Regions from separate parts of the Homo sapiens genome. Here region 2 is linked to region 1. Evidence: fine-mapped QTL for protein levels in blood plasma. A gene starts in region 1. The other region holds a variant in brackets. All regions are shown on one strand. Distances are between the middles of the regions. Region 1 holds the start of NOS1 (nitric oxide synthase 1). Region 2 overlaps NOS1 (nitric oxide synthase 1).

The links. A credible set is the group of variants that fine-mapping cannot tell apart. PIP is the chance, under the fine-mapping model, that this variant and not a neighbour inherited with it causes the effect. The UK Biobank Pharma Proteomics Project read protein levels with antibody pairs (Olink). The fine-mapping took linkage between variants from a reference panel, not from the people measured, so its PIPs are less certain.
Region 2: its variant is the best candidate, but not a certain one, in a credible set for the plasma level of the NOS1 protein (UK Biobank, PIP 0.67).

What each region holds. Positions count from the first base shown.
Region 1 is chr12:117,352,425-117,369,002 of GRCh38, reverse strand. It overlaps NOS1 (nitric oxide synthase 1), which reads left to right and starts at 7,377. Exons shown (of 29, transcript NM_000620.5): 1 at 7,377-7,491. RefSeq lists promoters at 6,331-7,252, 7,419-7,491, 7,716-7,876, 5,599-7,876.
Region 2 is chr12:117,253,822-117,261,821 of GRCh38, reverse strand. NOS1 (nitric oxide synthase 1) reads left to right here. Exons shown (of 29, transcript NM_000620.5): 14 at 1,213-1,357; 15 at 2,692-2,796; 16 at 3,367-3,425. Among named protein-coding and RNA genes, the nearest start is that of FBXO21, 67 kb to the right of the region's middle. The variant T/C (reference allele first, on the strand shown) is at 4,033.

The DNA of each region.
Region 1 (16,578 bases):
GAGGCCAGCAGGATCCCTTTCCATGGTTCTGGGCAGTGTAGGCTGCAAAGCGTCAGCACACTAGCAGGCTTGGTTGTTACGGCCTATGGACTGTGAGCTCATCTGACTTCCCCATTGGCACTGAGTGCTTCATGAGCCAGAAGCCTGCCTGGGGGTCTTGGTTGCCCCAGCCCCCTGGCATAGTGCCAGGCATGTGGACCACCAGAAAGAGGGGAAAGAGAATGATTATATGTATGCTAGAAGATGCCAGGCCAATAGCTCTCAATGAAAGCTGAATGAAGAAGCCAGATACACAGACAGATTAAAAACAGAACAGCTCTGAGTGAGCTCAGAGCTCAGCTCCCCAACCTTCCCCCTTGACCTGCATGACAGGCAGACCCCAAGACACTGCTGGAGAGCCCAAGGTGGTCCTAGAACAGAGGAAGAAGCTATGCTCCAGTCTACCACTTCTTAATTTTATACATGGTGAAGTTAAGGCCCAGAGGGAGGAGGGGACTTGCCCAAGGTCACACAGCAGATGGAGGCTAGAGTCAAATAAAGAAGTCAGATACCCTGGCCCTGGTTTGGGAGCTTTCCAGAACACTTACCTCTTCCTCTTTCAACCACCTCCCCATTATCCTCCCCTAGGGACTGGTCTCAGAATTTGCCTAATTCTTAGAAATAAGTCAACCCATGTCATCTTTTTTGCACATGTCTGTGATATGGTGGGGAGGGCAGAATTGTAAGAGATCTCTGCTTTCATCTTGAGGGGATGTCACTGGTGCTGAGAAGCTCTGTCATTGAACTCCAGTTATCTGCTGAGCAAGGGTAAGGACCCAGTCCAGCACACTGGGGTGGCCTTACCAGCTCAGGGTAGCCAACTTAGAACCAGAAGACAACCTGCCTCAGTTTCCCCTGGAGAGCTTATTAAAAATACAGCCTCTTGGGTACCACCCAAGAGCTATAGACTCCCAGTCTTTGAGGGCAGGGTCAAGGAGCTGGTGTTCCCCTTCTCAGGGAATTCTTATACATCTGAGAGTTTGGGAGTCACTATTTTACATTCTGATTAAGACCTTCTTTGCCACTCAGACAGCTCCACTAACCAGGCTGAAACCCATTTCCTTGGTCAGAGCTCCTATACTAGTGGCCCAAGTGATTTAGTTGGATGGAACGCTATTTTGGAAACATCTGAATGTGAATGTCTTTAGGAGGGGCATGTGCTCCAGTTAGCCACAGGCTCCACTACTCCCTGATGTCTCCCACCCAGCCCACTTCATGTTCCCTGGAAGTATGTACATTTGCAACACCGGTTAGCACTGGCTTCTCTCTAACAGTGCCTTCAAAATGCAAATACTTTGACCAGCCCTTCATACCCCAGTGCAATTTAGACCATCAGAACTCCAGGCTTAGAGAATTTTTGCAATGTGTTGCCTTTAATTGGGGCGAGATGACCAGGGAATTCTGTAATGAGGGTGAAGGGAATAACCGAAGGACTCAATTGAGGGTATGAAGAACAAACTTAGGACTCCTCTCAATGTTTTACTTGGTCCTCTGGTGTGCTTGCAACCCCCACCCCGTTTCCTGCCTATGCCCTCACATTCTTTTTAATGCCTTCTCTATGTGGACAGATGCTGGGAACTAGGAGATGCAGACAGTTTCTGGGGTGATCCAGCATTCTCAACCCACCCAGGTCAGCCCAGCTTAGCGGGGACCTAGGTTCTGGTCCTGAAAGCTGAATATAGGAAGCCATGGACCTACCTGGCTGGTCTCCGGGAAAACAGGAAGGCTACAGCGAAGGTTTAGCGCGCCATCTGTTGGTCATTTAGGAAACTGCATCTCTGACAAACGGTCTGCATAGAGCTTCAGGCATCTGCAAATTTGCCAGCCGGCTCTCAGGCAAGAAATTGTTTTTAACCTTTCCAAGGTCTCACACCCTTTAAAAAGCCGCTGCACACTTATGAACCTTCTACCCCAGCAAAACGCACTTGCAATTGATTTTGCATATAATTCCAGGGACTTGGCCATCTTCAGGTTAAGATCTTCTGAGACCCAGAGATGCCAAGGAGTTTCCTTGAGCTCACATTGCACATTAGTGGAAGTGCCAGGTCTGGAAAGCAGGTGTTCCAGCCACAAATCTAGTGTTTTTAATGCTCAGGCTGCCTCTTTAAGCCTTAAAGTGTTCTTCCCTCTTTATTCTCTGCCAGAGTCCTGTAAATATCTGGAGGAGTCTTTGACATGCCCAGAAACTATAATGCTCCTACCTCTCCTGGGGGTTCTGGGCTCTCAGACAACCCTGTTCGCTGTTCATTTTTCCTGGGTCCTACAGAAGCATGCCCCCGGCCACTTTAGTGACACCCACTTTGCTCTTAGGAGGCTCAGACCCTGCATCCTGAACTGGGAGTTAGGACAGGAAACTGATCTGTCACTGATAGGCTGCTGCCCCTGGATGAATTGTCAAACCTTCCTGGATCTTGGCCTCCCCAGTGTAAAACGCTAGGTTGGAGGCAGCCATCTCCAAGGGCCCTTCCTTACTCTAACTGCAGAACTGACCAATGGGTGCCATCCTTCACAACAAGCAGGTCCAAATCACTTTCCCAGCCAAATACCCAGAGACAGGGTCAAAAGCATAATTCCTTTCCAGAATCAGAAGCCCTGGGTGGACGGGGCTGCTTAAGGGAGAGAGGGGACCTACGCACCATGGGAACAGGAAGGACACAGAGGAGGCACCCCATGGGTCTTCCAACACCTCCAACGGGCCAGCAAGGCAGGACAATGAGGCAGACCAAGGGGCATTTCTTGGGGATGAAGTAGTGTGGGAAATGGTAAGTGATGGATAAAGGGATGGCTTGGTAGGTTCAAGGGCATAATGCAGAGGACTAGGTATATAGTTGGTGTCTAATAAGGGAGACATTGTCATCACATAGCTGAACCCCAGCTTAATAGTAAACTCTTCTTCTACTTATTTAAACAAACATTTGTTCGGTTTTTGGTGGGAACAGAGGTTCTCAAACTTGAGCATGCATCAGAATTACCTGGCTGGCTTGTTTAAAATGCAGATTGCAGGGCCCCACCCTGAGGGTCTAATTCAGGTGGTCTGAGGTGGGGACTTGGAATCAGCATCACTAGCAAGTTCTCAGGTGATGCTGACCTCATCATTCAGGGAACACGCTTTGAGAACCACTGCCTTGGAGTGACGGATGAGACAGACCACCCTGCCCTCATGAGGGCATTGAACAAGTAAATATCACAGAACTTGTATGTTCTGAAGAGGGACATGCAGAGTGCTTGGGGCTGCTCCCAAGTGGGGGAGTTCGCGCTAAGACTTGAAGGCCGAGTAGAGCCAGCCCAGGAAGAGGGATGAAAATTTTGTGAAACACTTACTTAGAATGTGCCAGGCTCTCTCTCATATCGTTCATCTGCTCCTCCCAGTCAATGTCAGGAAGGTAGGATTAACGCCCATTTTACAGATGAGGAAGGTGAGGCTGAGAGAGAGAAATAACTGGCCCCAGAACTCATGGCAAGAAAGAAGCCCAGGTCTGTTTGTGCACAGGACACCTACCAGCAGCCACATCCCCTCTGCTGCACCCCCAGGAACCCCCTTCTTCCCAGGGGAGCTGCCACCTGGACACAGCTGCCGGACCCGGCCAGCCACACTCTGTCCATTTCCGCCCCCTGAAGCGCTTCAAGTGTTTTCACTGCTGGGTGAATTCAGCAGATGCCTTTCGATCACAGCCTATTAAATTAGCCCCTCTCTGCAGCCAAAAGAAGATAATTATGTTTTCATTAGCCCTGGATAATGTATTACCCCCTCAGTGACAGCCACGTCAGTGAGGCCAGCCTCCTCCCTTCCTCCTCCTGCCCAGGGCTCCGCCAGAGCACTCCACTCCCCTGGGGTCCACCTCTGCACTGAGGGGTGGGCACCAGTGAGGGTCCAGAGTGGCTGGGAGGCTGGGGGGGAAGGGACACCCTTTACACCCATCCACCATCCATGCAGGGGTTGAGGGGTGTGGTCCTGAGAGAAGGACCAAGAATAATTGTTATCACGGTGACCATTTATGAAGTGCCTGCCCTACGCTGATGCCTGGATGGGTCTCAGCTGGTTTGATCTTCCAATAGCTCGAGAGAAGGGTGGCACAACCCTCATCTCCCCCTGAACCCCAGAGAGGTCCTGGTGGAATCAGGTTATTGTGACAGCCCAGAGCAGCTTCCAAGGCACTACACCCAAGGGGCATTTTGGGGACTGTCCCAAGGCCACCTGGTTGATGGTAAAAGTCTCTTCCCTCCACTTGCTGGGGATCTCTGGAGACACTGTCCGTACTCATGTGGTAGGGGTCCCCAAACACCAGGAGCCACTCTCCCCAAACCCTAGACACTCCCCAGATGGCTCTGACATCCTCCCTCTCCCTCTTTCTCCACAAGACAGCGGCGAGGAGGCAGGAAAAGCTCCACTTTGGGGTCCCGAGTTCTAATATCTGCTTTACCACAGATTACCTGGGTGACCTGGAGCAAGTCACTTTGCCTCCAGAGCCTCTATTTTCTCCCTCTGTAAAATGGGAATAAGAAAGGGAGTCATTTCTTACCATTTTTATGATGGTTCAGTGAGTTATACCTATTAAATGCGTGGCTCAAAACCAGCAAAATGGGAAGTGCTCAACAGAAGATGGCCATTGTTCTCTTTACTACCGCAACTAGTGTTGTCCATAGTTCCCGTTAATCCTGGGGAAACCACCAGAGGGAGGGAAGGGAAGTATCTGGCTCTGTCTGTCACTGTCCGTCTTTCTCTGTATCTCTGTCTCTCTTTCCTGTCTCTGCCATTCTCTCTCTGCCAATCTCTCTCTCTCTCTGCCAATCTCTCTGCCAATCTACCAATCTCTCTCTGCCTCTCTCTCTTCTCTTACTCTGTCTCTCTTTTTCTCTCTGCCAATATGTCTCTCTGTGTATTTTTTCTTTCTGTCTCTGCCAATCTGTCTCTCTCTCTCTGCAAATCCCTCTGCCTCTCTCTTCTCTTACTCTCTTTCTGCCAATCTGTCTCCCTCTGTTTTCTCTGTCTTTCTCTCTGTCTCTGCCAATAAGTCTCTGTCTTCCTGTCAATCTCTCCGTCTCTCTCTTTTTCTGTGTGTTTTTTCTATCTCCGTCTCTGCCAATCTCTCTCTCTCTGCCAGTCTTTCTGTGTGTTTTTCTATCTCTGTCTCTCACTGTCTCTGCCAGTCTCTGCTGTCTCTGTCTCTCTCTTTGTCTATAAATCTCTCTGCCTCTCTCTCTTCTCTGACTCTCTCTGTTTGTGTGTGTGTGTGTGTGTCTGTCTGTCTGTCTTCGTCTCTCATCTACACACACACACAGAGGGCACCTCATGGTCCCTGGCTCCACCCGTGGGCTCTGAGGCTCTGTCTTCCCAGATCTCTGTCTCAAGAGCTACATTCTAAGGCTTTGCTTTTAATCGCACCAGGGCACCTGGAAGTGAGGAGAGAACTGAGGGGAGTGGGGTTTCTGTCCCCCTCTCCCCAAACCCAAGCCAACTCTGCCTTCTGCAGGCACAGCCAGCCTTGGCCCGACCCCACTATCTCCACCATCTCGTGGCCGTGCATCCCCTCCCAACCACCCTTCTCCCCAATTTCAAAAAAGCTTGTGCTCCCAGAGAGGAAGTGCCCCTACTCTGAGCTTCTTTTGGCCTTGACCCACACATAGGCAGACGTGGACTCTGTTTTGAGCAGGTGAACCGCCAGCCCAGTGGAAGAGCAGCTTCCCTTCCCCTAGCTTCCTGATTTTCCCCAGTTGCCATGGTAATTGAGGGAGCAGTGTTCTGAGAATGACACCACTGAAACCCAGCGCTCAACTTTGAAATGGTTCGGGCAAGGGACGCTGGACCCAAAACAGGAGGGGACCAGACTGCAAGGACTCAGCTCCAGCCTCAATTTTCTGGGACCCACCCCCCATCCAGCCTGTATGCTGGATTATTCTCATCATCATCAAAATCACCATTATTGTTGGCAACTGTTTCCTGAGCATTTACTATATGTCTAGCACCATGTCAAGGGCTTCACCAGCATCATCTCATTGTGTATATCCTCACGACATCCCCAGGCCCATCCATGGCTCAGGAAACAGGCTCTGAAACTTGCCCTTGTGGCAGCCAGGAAGTGGCAGAGCCCTGGGGCTGGTGGCATTTCTCCAGGCCTCCTTCCAGCATGTGGAAGACAGCATAGACCTCCAGGCACCCTCGTCAGCTTATTCTTTATTCCTTCCTCCCCTCCTCATCCCCCACACCCTTCTTCCTGCCCCCAAAGTCACACACCCCCTCCCCTGCTGGATGTGCAAGACGATCTGAAAAGCATTTATTAGTGACAAAGGGGGTGGTGGTTTTCCTCTTTGCCTCTTCTCTGCGCAACTCGAAGCCTGAGTGGGTTTGCTCCGCTTGGCAAGGCTGGGGAGGAGGAAAAGATCAAATCACCCAGAGCCAGGTGCCAAGTGTGTGTGTGTGTGTGTTTGTGTGTGTGTATGTGCGCGTGTGCGCGTGCGCGTGTGTGTGTCCTCTCTTTCCTTGATTTTCCCCCGTTTTCCCAAGACTGTGTGAGCAGCAGCAACAGCAACGGGGAGATGCAAAATCCTTTGCAATCTGCCCAGGAAAAGACAGATTTTGAGTCGGGTTTATATGGTTACCCATATGTTAGGGCCCCTAAGAAAGGAAGGGAAGCTGCGTTCTCTGTGTCTTCCCTCCTCCAGCCCAGACCTTGGCCTCTCCACACCTGTGGGGCTCCCAGGCCACAGATGAACATGTGCCCTCCATCCTTCACTCTCCCCAGATGCCAGGCCTGAGTGTGGCTCCAGAAAAGACCAGAACCAGGCAACATTTCCTGAACAGGCTGCTTTTCTCCGTCTGTCCACCCGAGAGCCAAGGCCAGAACCCAGGCTGCAACCTCTGCGGGCTCCTGGGAGGGGCTCCCAGCACTGCCCAGCCTGGGAGGCTGTGTGTTCCACTGTCCCATTAAGGAATGCTATCCCAACACTGATGTAGAGGCAGAAATAACCATCCCTGCCTCCCATGGGGCCTTCTCTGCCCAAATAGACCTGCCCTGCCCTGCGTGGCTACTACATTCAGCCCTATCCAGGCTCCCAGAAATTGTCATTGTGTGTGTGTGTGTGTGTGTGTGTGTGTGTGTATGTGTGTGTGTGTGTGTGTGTGTGTGTTTCCTGATAGAAAAAAAAAAATGGAAATTAGGTTATATAAAAGATGTATGCTTTGGAGCCCAGAGCGGCTCTTTTAATGAGGGTTGCGACGTCTCCCTCCCCACACCCATAAACCAGTCGGGTTGGACGTCACTGCTAATTCGTTTCAGTGATGATAGGATAAAGGAGGGACATTAAGAAATAAATTCCCCCTCACGACCCTCGCTGAGCTCACGGCTCAGTCCCTACATATTTATGCCGCGTTTCCAGCCGCTGGGTGAGGAGCTACTTAGCGCCGCGGCTCCTCCGAGGGGCGGCCGGGCAGCGAGCAGCGGCCGAGCGGACGGGGTGAGCCAGGGGCGCGCGCGGGGCGCCCAGCACTGCGCCGGGGAAGCCCGCAGCCTCCGTCCCGAACTTGGGTTCGCTGAGGCTGAGGGAGGGGACGCAAGGGGAGGGAAGAAGAGAAGGGAGGAGTGGGGGCTAGGGGAGAGGGGGTGGGGAGGGATCTTGGAGGCACAAAGCGGAGGGGAAGGGGAGGGACGCGCGCGGCTCCTACCAGGAGGCGAGTGGGTGCAACCGGCGCCCTCCAGCCGCGCGGGGCGGCGGACTCGGAGGATTCAGAACCCGGAGCGCGGCGGCCGCGGGCGCCCGGGAGGAAGAGGAGGAGTACGAGGCGGGCGGGCGGGTGCGCAGCGCGAAGAGGCAGCCTCGGCGCTGCCCGGCTCGGCGTCAGGTGAGTTCCTGATCCAGGCGTCCCGCGCCCCTTCTCCGTCCCCAGGGCTCCCCGCTCCCGCCCGAGCCCCTGGTGTGCGCGGAAGGCTCGGGCTTTGCTGCGCGTCCCAACTTGGTTCGGGCGGCCTCATTTTCCTCCTAGCGGGCGGCCTCAGGCCGGGGGCTCCGGTCCGGGGGTCTACGCGCCCAGGCTCCAACTTTGCAAGACCCTAGTCGTTCCTCAGCCGCGCGCTTGGCTCCGAGCTGTGCGCTGGCGGTAATGGCGGAGCCCTTGGCACAGCTCGCTACCCTCCCGCGGGCAGCCCGGGCTGGGGGATGCCAGTCCCTGGGGACCGTTGTACCTGCCCAAGCTCAACTTTACGCCTTCCTCGGTGCCCGACTCTGCGGCCGAATCGCAACTGCGAGCCGCAGGTAATGGCGGAGTCTTTGGCACTGCCAGCTGTCCGCGGCTGGGGGCCCGAGGCTGGGAGGGCTCCGCTCCCGGAACATCGCTCCGGCCTGGCCTCCAACTTTGCGAGGAGCCTCCTTGCGCTCTCCTCCCGCGGTCATGGCGGGGCCGCCCGCACCTCTCACTTCTTCCGTCTGGGCGAGATTGGGGTGTAAGAGCGCCGTCTCCAAAACCTGGGAAAGTTGTGCTTCTCCCGCAAAGGAGGCTCTAGGGAGGCCGAGGGGCGCGTTCCGCCACGGTTCGGGGCTGGGCAGTGGAAGGAGCGCTCGATGAGGTTGCTTCCAGGTGGCCAGGGTTCGGAGCAGGGTCCCCGGGGGATCCAACTTCCAGGGCCACTCAGGGGCCTTGCGTCCGAGGTCCCGGAAGGGGCTCTCTCGGGACTGCGCCCCAGAGGACGCCAGACGCTCGCCCCCACCCCCAGGGCACTGTGACCAGAGAGCTCATGGCTCTCCAAGCTCCGCATCAGGCTGTCTGGGGTAGACATCTAGAGAGGAGAGGCTCTCACGGAGAAGGCAGCCGAGGAGGGCAGGAACCTTTCCAGTGACTCCCCTGGGTTCTGGTCCTAGATCGACCCTTTACTTGTTGCGTGACCTTCGGTAAGTCTCTTCATCTTTCCCAGCCTCAGTTTCTCATCTGTAAAATGGAGAAACTACCTTTTTCGTGGGGCTGTCATGAGGACCTTAAAAAATCATAAATGTGAATATGAAGTCAGGGTAAGCGTTCATAACGCAGGAAGTGTTGCTGATATATATATATATATATATATATATATATATATATATATATATATATATATATATATAAAACCATTATTGTAATGCTCTGGGACCGGATCTGGGAGACTCGCACGCAGGTCTAGGGTTTCCCCACCAGTAGGAACCGGGGGGTCTACCCCACAGGGTACTACAGGCTGCGGAAGATTGCTCTCGCCTCCATCTCTACCCCAGTAATCCTGGGAAAGACGCATGGGATTCTTCCCTCTACTCCCATAGCCCAGCTCAAACCCTGCGCTCAGGCCTAAGAAAAGCGCGCACGCAGCCACCACGGAGGGAGGGTCCCCAGGGACGCCGCTAGGCAAGGGTGCGGTGCAGGCGAGCGCGCCCATAGGCGCCTCATCTCACCTCTGGCGGCCCACGACATTGGGAGACAGCAGAAAGGAGACCCCAGACCTCTCCTCCCGAGAGGAATGAGGGAAAATTGCTGCCTTTCTTTAGTGCTTCTCTAATTGGGGTCGGGGCAAACGCAAGAAATTCGTAAACACCAGGGAACACTGACGCAGCTCTCTGGAGCATAGATTTTTTCCCCCGTTATTTTTTCAGAACTGAAGATAAAATAGGAAAAGGGCTCTTGTGGCAGCTCCCCAAGTGCGCAGGGGTCGCGTCCATTCTCCGCCCTCAAGGCATCTCAGCGGATGGTTTGAGAAGCCTCGGCAGGTCCCTGAAGGAGGGGGTGTCCGCCCCACCAGCACCGCCACGGCGGGCCCCGGCCCCTTTCCACTAGTCTGGATTTCAGAAGCGCCCTGAGGGGCGCACGGCTCTGCCACTGACAGCTCCAAGGCACTGTCACACGTATTATTCACCTGGAGCCTCTTAACTTTCAGGTTGCCAGTGCAGCCATCTGAATTCCATTTTGCAGCTGCGGAAATTGAGGTGGGGCAAACCAAACTACCTAGCCATAGTCACCTAGCTGGTAAGTGGCACTACCCGAGACCTCAACCCCAATTTTCGGCTTCTTAATTGGGGCATTTTGCATGCATCTGGGCATCTACGCAGTCTGGCATGTGCCTGAACCTTAGCACACACAGCTGTATTTCCTGATACATCTGTTCAGCCAGAGGCCAACGCTATGGTCAGGGGCATGGCTTTGTCTCCACAAATTGTGTGATTTTTTTCCCCAAAGTCCCAAATCATGTAGAGAAAGAGTGAGCAGTGTGGTAGAGAGACCTGGTGAAGACCTCAGCTTGAGGCCAAGCTTAGCTCACTCCATGGCTGTGTGACCTCAGGTTGATCACTTAACCTTTCTGAGCTTCAGTTCTGTTATCTGTAAAATGAGAACAGTAACTCCCACACGGGGCTGTTTTGAAGACTCTGTGATGATGTATGTGAAAGGGGTTCTGGAAACAATGCTGGTATGCCAAGACTGGTGATTGTAAGGAAGGAAGGGAACCCGAAACAGAGGGAAGAGTGTCCCATGGAGCCATTTGGGGCCAATAGTGTCATCGTGGCTTTCAGAGCAGCCCGCTTTTTGCCCTTTCTGTCTCCTCTTTATATTTCCCAAATGGCCAAAGCCAGTCCCCAGGAGCCTCCATCTTCCTTGGGGAAGGACCGCACGGAGAAGAGTGAGAGGGCGGGGGTATTGTGATGGGTTAGGCTGCTCCCAGTGGGTCTCTGTGAGTAAGATGCAAAGAGTTGTCCGAGGTACCATTCAGTCAGTTGTCCAGAAACTTCCCCACTGGGGGGCCGCTGATTTCCCAGGAGGCAGGAAGATTTGGAGGTCAATTCGCCTGCATATTGTGAGCACAGACAGGTTTGGCTGTGCCTGTTGCGCTCACAATCTGCAGATGTTTTGGGGTGTCTTATGACAAGACTTCATGTGTTGCCTGTCACTCAGGTTCTGTGGGTCTGTGCGGGGCTTGGAATGTGGTTAAGAGCCACAGGCAACAATCCGTGCTCGTGAGAACTGGGGCTTTTTCCCATTAGAAACTGGAATTTGTGGAAGTTGAATTTGGCATTTCAGGACCCATTTTAATCTGGATTGTTTGAACAGAGGGGCATGTTTCCTGCCATGGATCAGTGTGGGTTTGTGTAGTTAACACCACATAGGTTACAGACATGACCATTTTCCTCGTTCTAATATATGATAACATTTAAACATCATCTAATCCAGCGAACGCCAAACATCAGCCCAGTGGACCTTTAGTGTCAGAATACAGCAAGTCCCTGGTTAAAAGCAAAGATGCCAGACCCCACCCTAAATCTACCGAATCAGCATTCCTGGGGGAGACTGGAAATATCTCTATTTTTAACAAGGTTGCTCCAGGAGATTCTAATACTCTCAGTTCTTGTCTGTCACCCTCGTTGTACAAATTGGGAAACTGAGGCCCAGAAGAGGCATGTGACTCGATGAAAGTCACACAGCACATTACTGCCAAAGCTGGGATAGAACCTCAGTGTCTTGACTTATTGTCCAATCCTCATCGATGATAACTTCATGTTTCCTTCAGTACAAGCCCCGTAAATGCCGGACTTTAAAGAAATTTAATTTCATCTTTCTGGTTGTTATTCTAAATTAGACCAACTGCTCAGAGGAGACTGAAAATAATTCCTCCCACCTTGACCTTGCTGGGTGTCAGCCCTGAGTTCCCATCTAATCTTGGACATTAGCCCCACTATTTGATCTCTCCCTTTCAGAGGGAAGGGGCTTCGACCTCCTGGGCTCAAATGATCATCTCTCCTCAGCCTCCCGAGTAGCTGGGACTACAGGCCTGTGCCACCACACCAGGCTAATTTTTGTATTTTTTGTAGAGACGGGGTTTTGTCATGCTGCCCAGGCCAGACTCAAACTCCTGGGCTCAAGCCATCTGCCTGCCTTGGCCTCCTTAAGTCCTGGGATTGCAGGTGTGAGCCACCACGCCAGGCCTAGAAAAATTCCTTTTATAAGTGACCTATCAGGTATAACTTCTGCAAAGAAGTAATCACAGAGCTAATAAACCCAGTTTAACTACCACTGATTTCACCAAAGCCATTGGTTTGAGTTCATTTCCACAGCCCATCGGCCTTCCACTCAGCCTTTGCAAGTGTGTTTATGTTGCTCACATGCCCATTCTTAAGGTGGAAGAATGATGAGCAGCACCTGGCAATGCTGGAAAATTGAGCCCATTCGAATCTTTTAAATGAAAATGACGTGTCAACAGAAAGTGCCCCTAAGTCTCTAATTCAAGTATGGTTAACAGGGTATAGTGGACATGGGTCTTGGCACAGTCGTATGATGCTAAGGATGAACAGCAGTTATCGTGGGCTGTTCGGCAGCAGACGTCAGCACATTTATTGTATGTGTCATGACACGTGTTAAATGGCAAGGCCAGTGCTAGACCCCAAGGGCAGGTGCCCAGATAAAGGTGGTGTGAGCCCCATTCTAATGAAACCTGTAGTCTGGCTAAGCGGTGAGCACCAGACAAACCCTGTACCTGGCGTGAAGTTTCTGCAAGAGAGGTGGAGGTGAGGTGCTGTGGTAGGACCCAGGACAGGTGGTTGAAGGAATCAGGGAGGACTTCTCAGAGGAGGTAGCATCAAAGCCCATAGCCTGATTTGTGGCACCCTCTCAGGGTTGGGGTCCCCAGTGCCAAACTGGGCCAGCAGCAGCCAGGTTGAAAGGGAGGGCCTCACACTGAGAATCATCTTAGGAAACGTCAGAGGCCAGCTTGGGCACTTGTGGATTCTGTGACTCAGAGTGAGAGAATTAACATCTCTGACTCTCCAGCATGTCATTCATACAGCAGAGATTATAAGTACTACAGGGAGTTGTTAGGAGGATTTAATGGGATAGTGTGTGTGTTTAACTCTGGAAAGGAAACAGCATCCAGCCCATCTCAGTGATCATAACAAAGAAAAGAAATTTTAAAAAGAGCCAGCCAGACACAGTGGCTCACGCCTGTAATCCCAACACTTTGGGAGACTGAGGCAGGAGGATTGTTTGAGCTCAGCGTTTGAGCCCAGCCTGGGAAACAGAGTGAGACTCCATCTCTACAAAAAAATTAGCCAGGTGTGGTGGCGTGCACCTGTGGTCCCAGCTGCTCAGCAGGCTGAGGTGGGAGGATAGCTTGAGCCCAGGATGCGGAGGTTGCAGTGAGCCGAGATTGTGCCGCTGCACTCCATCCTGGGTAACAGAGCCAGAACCTGTCTCGAAAATACATAAATTAATTCATTAATTAATTTTTTTAAATAAAAAAGAGTTAGCCAGTTGGTGTAGTCTGAGCCCCTTTCTCTTGCTCAGCCTCTGTTTTCTTATCTGTGAAATGGAGTTGGAACTAAAGGGCATCTCCCTTCAGAGACCTGCAGATATGTTCTGTTAGTCTGGCAGAGGGCTTTTTTTTGTTCTCTGTTTGTTTGGATTGGGGGCATTGTTTTGTTGGGTTTTGTTTGGAGAGTATTTTTTTTCCTTTAGGTCACCAGCCTCACCATTCAATATTGTTTAATTTGCTTGTCCGGGCCCTTCGAGGCATTTTAGTTTACAACCCCAGGACGCACTTCCCACAAAGACCTTTTCAGCTTTAACATCTTCTGCCTTACCTGAGAGCAACATTGGCCCAATTATCATCCATCAATTGCATTTATGATTTCTGCTGACATTTCCTAAGAGAAAGGTGGCCCTATTCAGGTGGAAAATACAGAAGTCCTTTGCAAGGGGCAAAGTTCCCATTTCCAGCCTGGGCATTTCCCACCTCTTATTTGTATGTCCTGTTACCTACTAAGACTGGGATTTCCTGGGAATGATGAGCCTTTTCTTTTTGACCATCCAAGATGCTTTGGGAGCCTACAGATTTTCAGAGGTGCCCTGAAAAGCATTTCAGCTTCTGCTGGGAACATTTGCCCACTGGCATTAAATAATACTCGAGAATCTCTTCTTTATTCAAAACCTGACAGCTAAATTTTGCTACCATGAGGATTAAAAAGGTGAGCCTTTCTGAAACCCATTTCCAGTTGGAAATGAAGAAGGAATATTGTGAATTCAAAAAGCTTACGCAACTTCAGATAGTATCCGTGTACAACCGTCGTTTCCCAGCTAAAGCATTTCTTGTCATAAACGAGAGTGAAGTTAACCACTTCTTCATTTAACAAACACAACCTGAGCTCCCAGCTCTGTGCCAGTCCCCACAAGAGAGGCTTCCTCATAAAGAAAGGGAAGACAGAGTCCCTACCCTCAAGGTAGCTCATGGTGTCCAAAACAGGCATCCACTCACCAATAACTAGATGTAGTGAGGTAAATGATGTGGGCAGTCCATCCTATTTAGTCACTAAAACAGCCACATGGATCACATTGGGCTCTATGTCATTTCCAGGAATTTTCAGCATAAAAAAAAAGTAACCTCCGGGGATAAATCAGAATAGTACTCGATAGCAACTGACATATTTTGGGCATATTTTTCTCTTTAATTTTTTTGAAGCAGTATCTCAGCTCTGGAATACTCAGTAAGAAAAATGAAAGCCAGTTATGTTCATGTGCCAGAAAACAGGTAATGAACACAGTCAATAGCATCGATGTGCTTGTTTGTTATAAGTCTTAGCTGGCAATACCTTCAGTTATCATTTTGCTTCTAATATCATGGTAGTCACTGAAATGGAATCTCTTTCTTTCTCCCAAAGCATGGTATAAAATAATGGGACTGGGTGGGTTTCTTGGCTTGATATTTTTATTGATTTTGATGATTTTTGTAACAAACATGCCAAACTCATATACGTAGATAAATATTTTCGCTTCCAGCTGCCGGCAAGGTGTAGGATTTCTTGAGGGTCCCTTCTTCAAGACTTGCCTTCAGAAAGCATGATATCTCTTTCTGAATCTCCCTACTAGTGATATCTTATTGGGCTTTTGAGGATGCAGTTGAATTTCAGAAACAGCAAGAAGTCATTGAGAGCCACATATTTTTTTGGCTAAAATGGGTGATGACCTTGGATGAAATGCAGAGATTTGGTTTTTGTTTGTTTGTTTCATTGGTTTTTTCATTGTTGTTTTGTTTTGCTTTTGTAGAGGTGGATTCTCACCATGTTGCCCAGGCTGGTCTTGAACTCCTGGGCTCAAATGATCCTCCTGCCTCAGCGTCCCAAAGTGCTGGGATTACAGGCCTGAGCCCAGCCCAAAATGTGGAGATTTAGTTTTCGTTTAGAGGAGGGCTATTTTAAAAAAACAATATGGTGTGATCAGGATTCCCTATCTGGTTCAAAACTGACATCTAAGTCAAGCATTGTGCCCCATGTACTTCATCTTGTGACTCTGATGATGGGAACCAGCCTACATGATGCTAAAACCCTTCCTTCGCAAGAACCCTTGACACCTATTTCTGGGAAACAGCTTGTCTGCTTCTCTCTCCTAACCAACAGGGATGAGACTTATGACTTGAATTGTCATTGTTTAGAAAACAACCTTAACTGAGTATTTGGGGAAGTTGTGCAAGTACAGTATATAGTTAATTTTCTTAGGTGTAATAATGGTACTGTGGGTTTTGTGGGAGTCTGTCTCTACGCTGAAGATAAGTGTGCTTAAGAATTTAGAGCTGAGACATCATGATTCTGCAACTTGTTCTAAAATGGTTCATTGTGAAGATAGGTAAGTAGGTAGGTAGATAATAGATGGAGAGGTAGGTAGGTAGATAGATGATAGATAGACAGATAGATAGATAATAGCTAGAGGATAGAATAGGTAGGTAGATAGATGATTGATAGATGGGTAGATAGATAGATGAATAGATAGATAACAGATGATAGGTAGGTAGATAGATTGGTAGGTAGATAGATGGATAGACAGATGATAGGTATATAGGTAGGTAGATAGATAGGTACATGAATGGATGGATGGATAGATAGCTAGGTAGGTAGATAGGTAAGTAGGTAGATAGGTAGGTAGGTGGGTGGATGGATGGATGGATGGATAGATGGATGGATGGATGGATAGATAGATGACTGATAGAGAAAGACAAGTAGGTAGATATGAAAATGCTAATAGCTGTTGAATTAAGTTGAAAGTTTATGGGTGTTTTTACACCATTCTTTTACATTTTCTGTTTAAATACTTTATCATAAAGTTGGGAGGCAAGAATGGCTTTCAACTTTCCTCCATGTTAAATTTTTCCAAGTTTCTTTGGAGAATAATATTTAGCCTTCTCGTTTCTATCCCCTCACCTCCCACACACGAATACATGTGCACATGCATATACGCACACTCATGAACACACACATCTCTCTCTCTCTCCCTCTTTTTTCCTGGAAGAAATAATCCTGCAGTTTAGCAGAATGTCACTGTTTTTCATGGCAGTTTCTCTTTACATTTTTCCCTCAGCATTTTAATTAGGGCTGTGAGTCACCATGCTTTATGAAGGCTGGTGACAATGTCATTTACGGCTGTTTAGCATCCCAATCGAGCCCTCTTTGGCGGTGCTCATTACATCAGGGGCATTGAGCAGTGAGCAGGCGACAGTTCCCTCTGTCAGCAACAGAACAGGCTCAGGGCCTCTTGAGGGACTGAGAAATGAGCTTGAGGTT
Region 2 (8,000 bases), 100 kb after region 1:
TTAAAATTCATAACTTCTTTTATTTCTTTTTTGTAGAGACAAAGTCTCACTCTGTTGACCAAGCTGGTTTCAAACCCTTGGCCTCAAGTGATCCTCCCGCCTCAGCCTCCCAAAGTGCCAGGATCACAGGCATGAGCCACTATGCCCATCCCATAACTTCTTTTGATAGATATTTATTTAGTGCCTGTTGGGTATCAGGCTCTGTGCAAGACCCTTGACATGCATTGCTGAATAAATCAGACCTGGTCCTTCCCTTGTGGACCAATAAACCTCTAAATCCCATCAAACTCAATGCCTGGTGACTAATTCGTGATTCATTTCTCTCTCTCTTTCTCTCATTCACACATGTGCATACACACACACATTAGAATATGAGCCCTATGACAGCTGCATTCCATAGCTATGTTCTCTGTGGTCTCCATTTCCTATAACAATACTGACACATAGTTAAGCACTTAATAAATATTTGATGAATGAAAGAGAGAGGAAATGGATGAACGATCATCTTTTGAGGCAATGCTTGGCAAACCAAGGTTCTTAAGCCTGGGATCAATCAAGTAACAAGCTAACAAAACTAACTACTCCTTTTAATTCATGACTAATTGCTCTGGTGGGATTTTTTTTTTTTTTTTTTTTTTTTTTTGAGGCAGAGTCTCACTCTGTCGCCCAGGCTGGAGTGCAGTGGTGCCCAGTGGTGCGATCTCGGCTCACTGCAACCTCCACCTCCTGGGTTCAAGCAATTCTCTTGCCTTAGCCTCCCAAGTAGCTGGGACTACAGGCGCACGCTGCCACTCCCGGCTAATTTTTTTGTATTTTAGTAGAGACGGAGTTTCACCTTGTTGCCCAGGCTGGTGGCAAATTCCTGAGCTCAGGCAATCCACCTGCCTCGGCCTCCCAAAGTGCTGGGATTATAAGCATGAGCTACCACACCCGGCCTCTGGTGGGATTTAATAAAGGATTTAATATCCAGCATTATCTCTAGAGAAGTTAAAAAATAAAATAAAATAAAGGATTTAATAATACTTTAATAATACGGTGCTTAAACACAAAGACTTCAAGTGCCTCTGAGGAAACCCCTGAAGCCATCAAAGATCAAGAGAGTTCTCTTCTGTTATATTTCATGGATCCTGGTTCTTGCACGAAAGTCCCAATCCAGCATCTTCTCTCCCCTTTTCTGTTGCCCATTTTTCATCTCCATCCTCTTCCCTCCAGAGCTGTCAAGTTCTCGGCCAAGCTGATGGGGCAGGCTATGGCCAAGAGGGTGAAAGCGACCATCCTCTATGCCACAGAGACAGGCAAATCGCAAGCTTATGCCAAGACCTTGTGTGAGATCTTCAAACACGCCTTTGATGCCAAGGTAGGTGGGGGGTAGCCCTAGCTCCACCAGCTTCTCATGGTGAATTAAGGCAGGAAGGGGAGAGAGGGAAGTCAACAGAGAAGAAGCCTTTGGCAAAGGATGAAAGCACACCTGACAGGGCCTATCAGCTCACATACACATTTGCATAAATTTCAGGGGACTGTGATATCCCTGTCCCCATGAGTCCAGGAGTCACAAAATGAAATTCCCCTCTTTAGAGCAAAATGTTAGAGGGTTTATAAGAAACCATTCTGAGGTCAGTTTGGGAAGCTTTGCCTGAAGTACAGCTCGATGGTTTTTTGGTTTTGTTTTTTTGTTTTTTTGTTTTTTGTTTTTTTTTTTTTTTGAGAAGGAGTTTCACTCTGTCACCCAGGCTGGAGTGCAGTGGCGCGATCTCGGCTCACTGCAAGCTCCACCTCCCGGGTTCACGCCATTCTTCTGCCTCAGCCTCCCGAGTAGCTGGGACTGCAGGCGCCCACCACCACGTTCGGCTAATTTTTTGTGTTTTTAGTAGAGACGGGGCTTCACTGTGTTAGCCAGGATGGTCTCGATCTCCTGACCTCTTGATTCGCCCGCCTCGGCCTCCCAAAGTGCTGGGATTACAGGCGTGAGCCACCGCACCCGGCCAGCTCGATGGTTTTCATTGCTGTGGCAGGACTTCCCAGAGCCTGTAATCTATAAGCATGTGTTCTAATCTCCAAAAGAGGCGAGGATAGAATATAGACGTTTCCCAAACATGTTTGATCGTGGATCGCTTGTTTTCATGGAGCATCTCAGGAGACTGGGATTTTCTAGAACCTATTTTGAGAAATGTTGCTCAGACGATGATGAGACACAGGGCAATCATCTTTCCAGAAGGCAGATATCTCAGACTTGTTTGGCCAGGTGCTCCACACTGCTCGGGGGAGGATTAGAGAGGAGGTTGAGAAGACTTAGTCAGCTCTAGCCAGATCATTCCCGGCCTAACTGGGGTCAGGAAGAATCCAAGACCAATTGACTATAAGAATCCCATGGGATTCCATCAAGCTGTGTTTCTAGTATCTGCCAATCCCTTGAACCATTGCTTCAGATTCTCCACAACCCTTCAGGCCACAGTGACCATAGCAAGGTCCCACGCTACCAAAAAGCGTTTAGTTCTACCCACTTGAGCCCACTGAAGTACTAACACCTCAGATCTTTTGGTTCTCCTTCCAAAGGAGATGACCCAAAATGACTCACATTTTTCCTTTCTCTCCTCTTGCCCTTCCCCCATCACTTTTTGTCTCTCCCACCTCTTTTCTCTCCTCATCCCCTTCTTCCTCTCCCCATCCTATACCTGTGCCCTGCCCACCTAGGTGATGTCCATGGAAGAATATGACATTGTGCACCTGGAACATGAAACTCTGGTCCTTGTGGTCACCAGCACCTTTGGCAATGGAGATCCCCCTGAGAATGGGGAGGTGAGATGAGCTTTTACCTGTTCAAGAGTGTGGTTCCATCATCAGGAAGAAGTAGGGGCCAAGGTTGAGACTCTTCCTACACCTGCTATTCAGTAGCAAACCCTCCCAGAGCCTGAAAGCCAGTAATTTCCATTTGGATCCAAGTTATACAAAGGTTGGACAATTCCAAGTACTCAGTCTACTGGCGTCCATTAGTTAGCAAGTCCCTGGTGAAAATATTGTCACCTAAGTGAGCTATTTGTTTGCAGTGGCTGCTCCTATCATTAGCTTGATGTTCCCTGATGTAGATGAGGAACATGGGGACAATATTTTTATAGAAGGAAGGCTCCAACGGGAAGTTGTGTGCTGGGGGTAGGGAGTCCACACCTGTAGTCATTTAAACAGCAGGTGTATCCACTGCGTCTGTAGCCCAGGCATTACTGTCCAGCCTGAGCCCCTGACCGCTCCTGACATCCTGGCCTCCGGGCATCAGTCTCCTCTTTGACAGCCAGGACCCCAGACCCTCAGTATCCGACCTGATTTCCCATTTACTAAGATGTGCTAATTTCACCCATATGTTTTGGCTTCCAGAAATTCGGCTGTGCTTTGATGGAAATGAGGCACCCCAACTCTGTGCAGGAAGAAAGGAAGTAAGTGAATGACCCCTCCGACGTCACCCGCCACCCCCGAGGGTAACTGGACATTGACTTTTGGCACCTGGGGTTCACATTTGAGTTCTGGATGGTGGCTGTAATCTGAAGTCCATTTGTAATGGGTCTTAGTTGTGAGGTGTCTGCAGTCTACTGGGGCAAATATTTTGGTATCTGGGTCACTTCACAGCCTTGTGCCTCAGTTTCCTTTTCTATCAAATAGAGATTATAGCACCTACCTTGACTTTCTAATTAGTAAGAATCAAATCACAAACTAGATGTAAAAGCACTGTGTGCTGGGCGTGGTGGCTCACGCCTGTAATCCCGGCACTTTGGGAGGCCGAGGCAGATGGATCACAAGGTCAGGAGTTCGAGACCAGCCTGGCCAACATGGTGAAACCCCATCTCTACTAATAATACAAAAATTAGGCGGGCGTGGTGGCGCATGTATGTAATCCCAGCTACTCGGGAGGCTGAGGCGGGAGAATCGCTTGAACCTGGGAGGAGGAGGTTGCAGTGAGCCAAGATCGCACCATTGCACTCCAGCCTGGGCAACAAGAGCAAAACTCCATCTCAAAAAAAAAAAAAAAAAAGCACTGTGTAAATA[T/C]TATTCTTTTTCCCTCTTTGAGAACCTACATTCAAAATCAGTGCAAGGCAGTCAGGCATGGTAGTGCACACCTATAGTCTCAGCTACTCTGGAGGCTGAGCCAGAAGGATCACTTGGCCCCAGGAATTTGAGGCCAGCCTGAACAGCCAGACCTGTCAAAAAAAAAAAAAAAAAAAAAAAAAGCTAAAATCAAAGAATGGAACTTCTTTCCTTAAAAGCTTCCTGTCTGATGCTCACAGTGAAGTTGCAGCTAATCTAGAAGTTGAGTTCAAAAGATAAGATACCTTGTAAGACAAAACATACCTGTAGTCAAAAATATGTTTGTAATGGAACCGCATCTAATGTGGGATTGAGTTCTAAAGGTATTTGGTAAAGTAAAAAAGCATCTAATCAAACTTACCATTGATGGCTGGGCACGGTGGCTCATGCCTATAATCCTAGTGCTTTGGGAGGCTGAGGCAGGAGGATTGCTTGAGGCCAGGAGTTCAAACCAGCCTGGGCAATATAGCAAGATCCCATCTCTACAAAAAAATTAAAAATTAGCTGGGCATGGTAGTGTGCACCTGAAGTCCCAGCTACTCCAGAGGCTGAGGCAGGAGGATCACTTGAGCTCAGGGGCTTGAGGCTACAGTGAGCCATAATTATACCACGGCACCCCAGCCTAGACAACAGAGCAAGACCCTGTCTCTAAAAAATAAAAATAAAAAAATTTTTTTTGAGATGAAGTTTCGCTGTTATCACCAAGGCTGGAGTGCAATGGCACGATCTCAGCTCACTGCAACCTCCGCCTCCTGGGTTCAAGCGACTCTGCAGCCTCAGCCTCCCGAGTAGGTGGGATTACAGGCACACACCACCATGCCTGGCTAATTTTTGTATTTTTAGTAGAGACAGGCTTTCACCATGTTTGCCAGGCTGGTCTCGAACTCCTGACCTCAGGTGATCTGCCTGCCTCAGCCTCCCAAAGTGCTGGGATTACAGGCCTGAGCCACCGCACCATGACAAAAAAATTTTTGTTAATGACCCTTGAAAAGCCCTTGCATCCCCCATAAGGTATAGGACACATGGTGTGTGCACGCTGAGCTGCCTTTCCATGAGGCCAACTCAGTATTTGCTCCAGCATGGAGCAAGCAGATCCCTGTGTCTTAAGGTGAACATCAAATGCTCTAGCTGGCTGGTGTTTTTTGGCTGTGTTAAGCAGAAAATCCCTTCTGAGGCCAGACACAGTGGCTCATGCCTGTAATCCCAGCATTTTGGGAGGCTGAGGCGAGAGGATCACCTAAGGTCAGGAGTTCGAGACCAGCCTGGCCAACATGGTGAAACCCGTCTCTACTAAAAACATAAAAATTAGCTGGCCATGGTGGAGTGCACCTGTAATCCCAGCTACTCAGGAGGCTGAGGCAGGAGAATCACTTGAGCCTGGGAGGCAGATGTTGCGGTGAGCCGAGATTGCGCTACTGCACTCCAGGTTGGGTGACAGAGTGAGACTCCGTCTCAAAAAAAAAAAACAGAAAATCCCTTCTGATTTTCTTTGTGCAGAGAACATGCTGCCGTATTCACATAAGTTTGATACCCAGGAGACTGACCGTTGCTGAGTCCTTTGTGGTCAGCCCTCGTTCTACGCCCAACTCCAGCATCTTAGTCCTCACTCTCCTTACCTCTCTCCTTCCCACCCCATCCTAGATGGCCTCCCAGCAGGTTCCCTCTCACCCCTCCTTCAGGGAGAGATAGGGCACCATCGATTCTCCCCTCTAGGTACCCGGAACCCTTGCGTTTCTTTCCCCGTAAAGGGCCTCCCCTCCCCAATGGTGACACAGAAGTCCACGGTCTGGCTGCAGCCCGTGACAGCCAGCACAGGTAGAGTGTGCATGTGTGTACACGCAGGTGTGTGCGAGTGTATGCATGCACACCCAATGCCTGAGCATCCCAGGCCACACATCTAGGTCTCAAGGAGATCCGAGTTCTAACCTGAGCTGTGTCACTAACTCACTAAGTGACCTTGAGCAAGTCGCTTAACCCCTGTGGGCCTTGGTCTTTCTCATCTGCCGAATGGGGAGAAATTAGCTCTGCCCTACCCACTTCTGTGGCCTATTGGCAGGGTCAAAGGGTAATAACAAAAAGGAAAGCATTTGAAAAAACCTCCAACCTCATACAAATGCACGTGCTGTTATTTTTACCCACAACCATCAACCATTCCTCCCACACTAACAACACAGCCACCCCCTGATATATTGCATGACTCAATGTGAGACTATTTTAGGGCAGAAAATACACTTACATATATTTAGAACTTTCCTGATGCTGGAGCGAAAACTTTAAAGAACATCCAGCTTAGAAACCCTGCTGCTAGAATGCACAATTTCTTTTCTTCTTTTTCTCTCTTTTTTTAATTTTCTCATTTCTTTTTAATTTTTTGTAATTAGATTTGTGTGTTGGGTTTGCTTCTTGAGTTTTGGGTTTTGTTTTGGAGTTTTGGTTGCTTGTTTGTTTGGTCTCAGATTTTTTGTTTGTTTCTGTTTGCTTTGTTTTGTTTTGCCTTGCCTGAGAGCACAACTTACCATTTTTGGAGGAAAACGGAGAAATTGGATTTTTTTTAATATCAAGGTTCCTGAGCCTCTCATGCTGAGATTTGAGTCCCAAAGACATCTTCCTTCACCTTCCAAATAATTTATTTTTTTAATTTTATTATTATTATACTCTAAGTTTTAGGGTACATGTGCACAATGTGCAGGTTAGTTACATATGTATACATGTGCCATGCTGGTGTGCTGCACCCATTAACTCGTCATTTAGCATTAGGTATTAATTTAAAAAATGCAGTCTCTTTCCATGCCAGGCGTCAGTGCTGAACATTGTTCATATTTACTTGAAATGTGAAATTTGATAGAGCCCTGAAATGTCTAAGGACCATAACTTTATGGAAGGACAGTATTGAATGGGATACTCCAGCACTGTCCAGAAGAACTTTCTAGAGAGATGTAAATGTTCTATATCTGTGCTGTCCACTATAGCAGCCACTAACCAAACGTGGCTCCGGAGCCCCTGAAATGTGGCTGGTGCAAGTGACACCCTGCTATGACCCAGTGGTTCTCAAAGCTGAATGCACATCAGAATCACCTAGGGAGGTTTGCAGTGTACCAACCACATTGACTTGTATTTAACTCAAATTAATTTAACTTTAGATAGCCACACTTAGCCAATGGCTGCCATCTTGGACAGCATGGTCTAGTTTCTAGCTACTTAAAATGAAGTCTGGAGACACTGGCATCTCCTGGGAGCTCGTTAGAAATGCAGAACCCCAAGCCAGGTCCCAGAACTACTTAATCAGAATCTGCATTTTAATGAAATCCCAGGATGATTCTTGTACACATTAAAATTTGAGAAACAGCCAGGTGCAGTGGCTCACACCTGTAATCCCAGCACTTTGGGAGGCCGAGGCAGGTGGATCACCTAAGGTCAGGAGTTTGAGACCAGCCTGGCAAATGTGGTGAAACCCCGTCTCTACTAAAAATGCAAAATTAGCTGAGCATGTTGGCACATGCCTGTAATCCCAGCTACTTGGGAGGCTGAAGCAGGAGAATCACTTGAACCCAGGAGGCAGAGGTTGCAGTGAGACGAGGCCGTGCCATTGCACTCCAGCCCAGGCGACAAGAGTGAAACTCTGTCTCAAAAAAAAATTTTTTTTTTTTTTAGAAACAAGGGAGCATGGTCTCATGGTTTAGGGGAGTAGTTAGTTCTGTTCCTGACTTCTTACTGATTAAATCATTTTAACTTTATGGGTCTCAGGTTTCCTGAGTTAAGCATGGCCAGAAACCTTTTTAGTACCAGTTAAGACCAAGTGCAGATGAACAGTTACCACTGTGGTGGACAAGGGTAAGTTGGTAGATTATAGAAGAGGCCATGGGAGTGTTATGGTTTGACTCAACATACAAGAGAAGGCCCTAGAATCAGGACTGGTCACTTGAAGATCC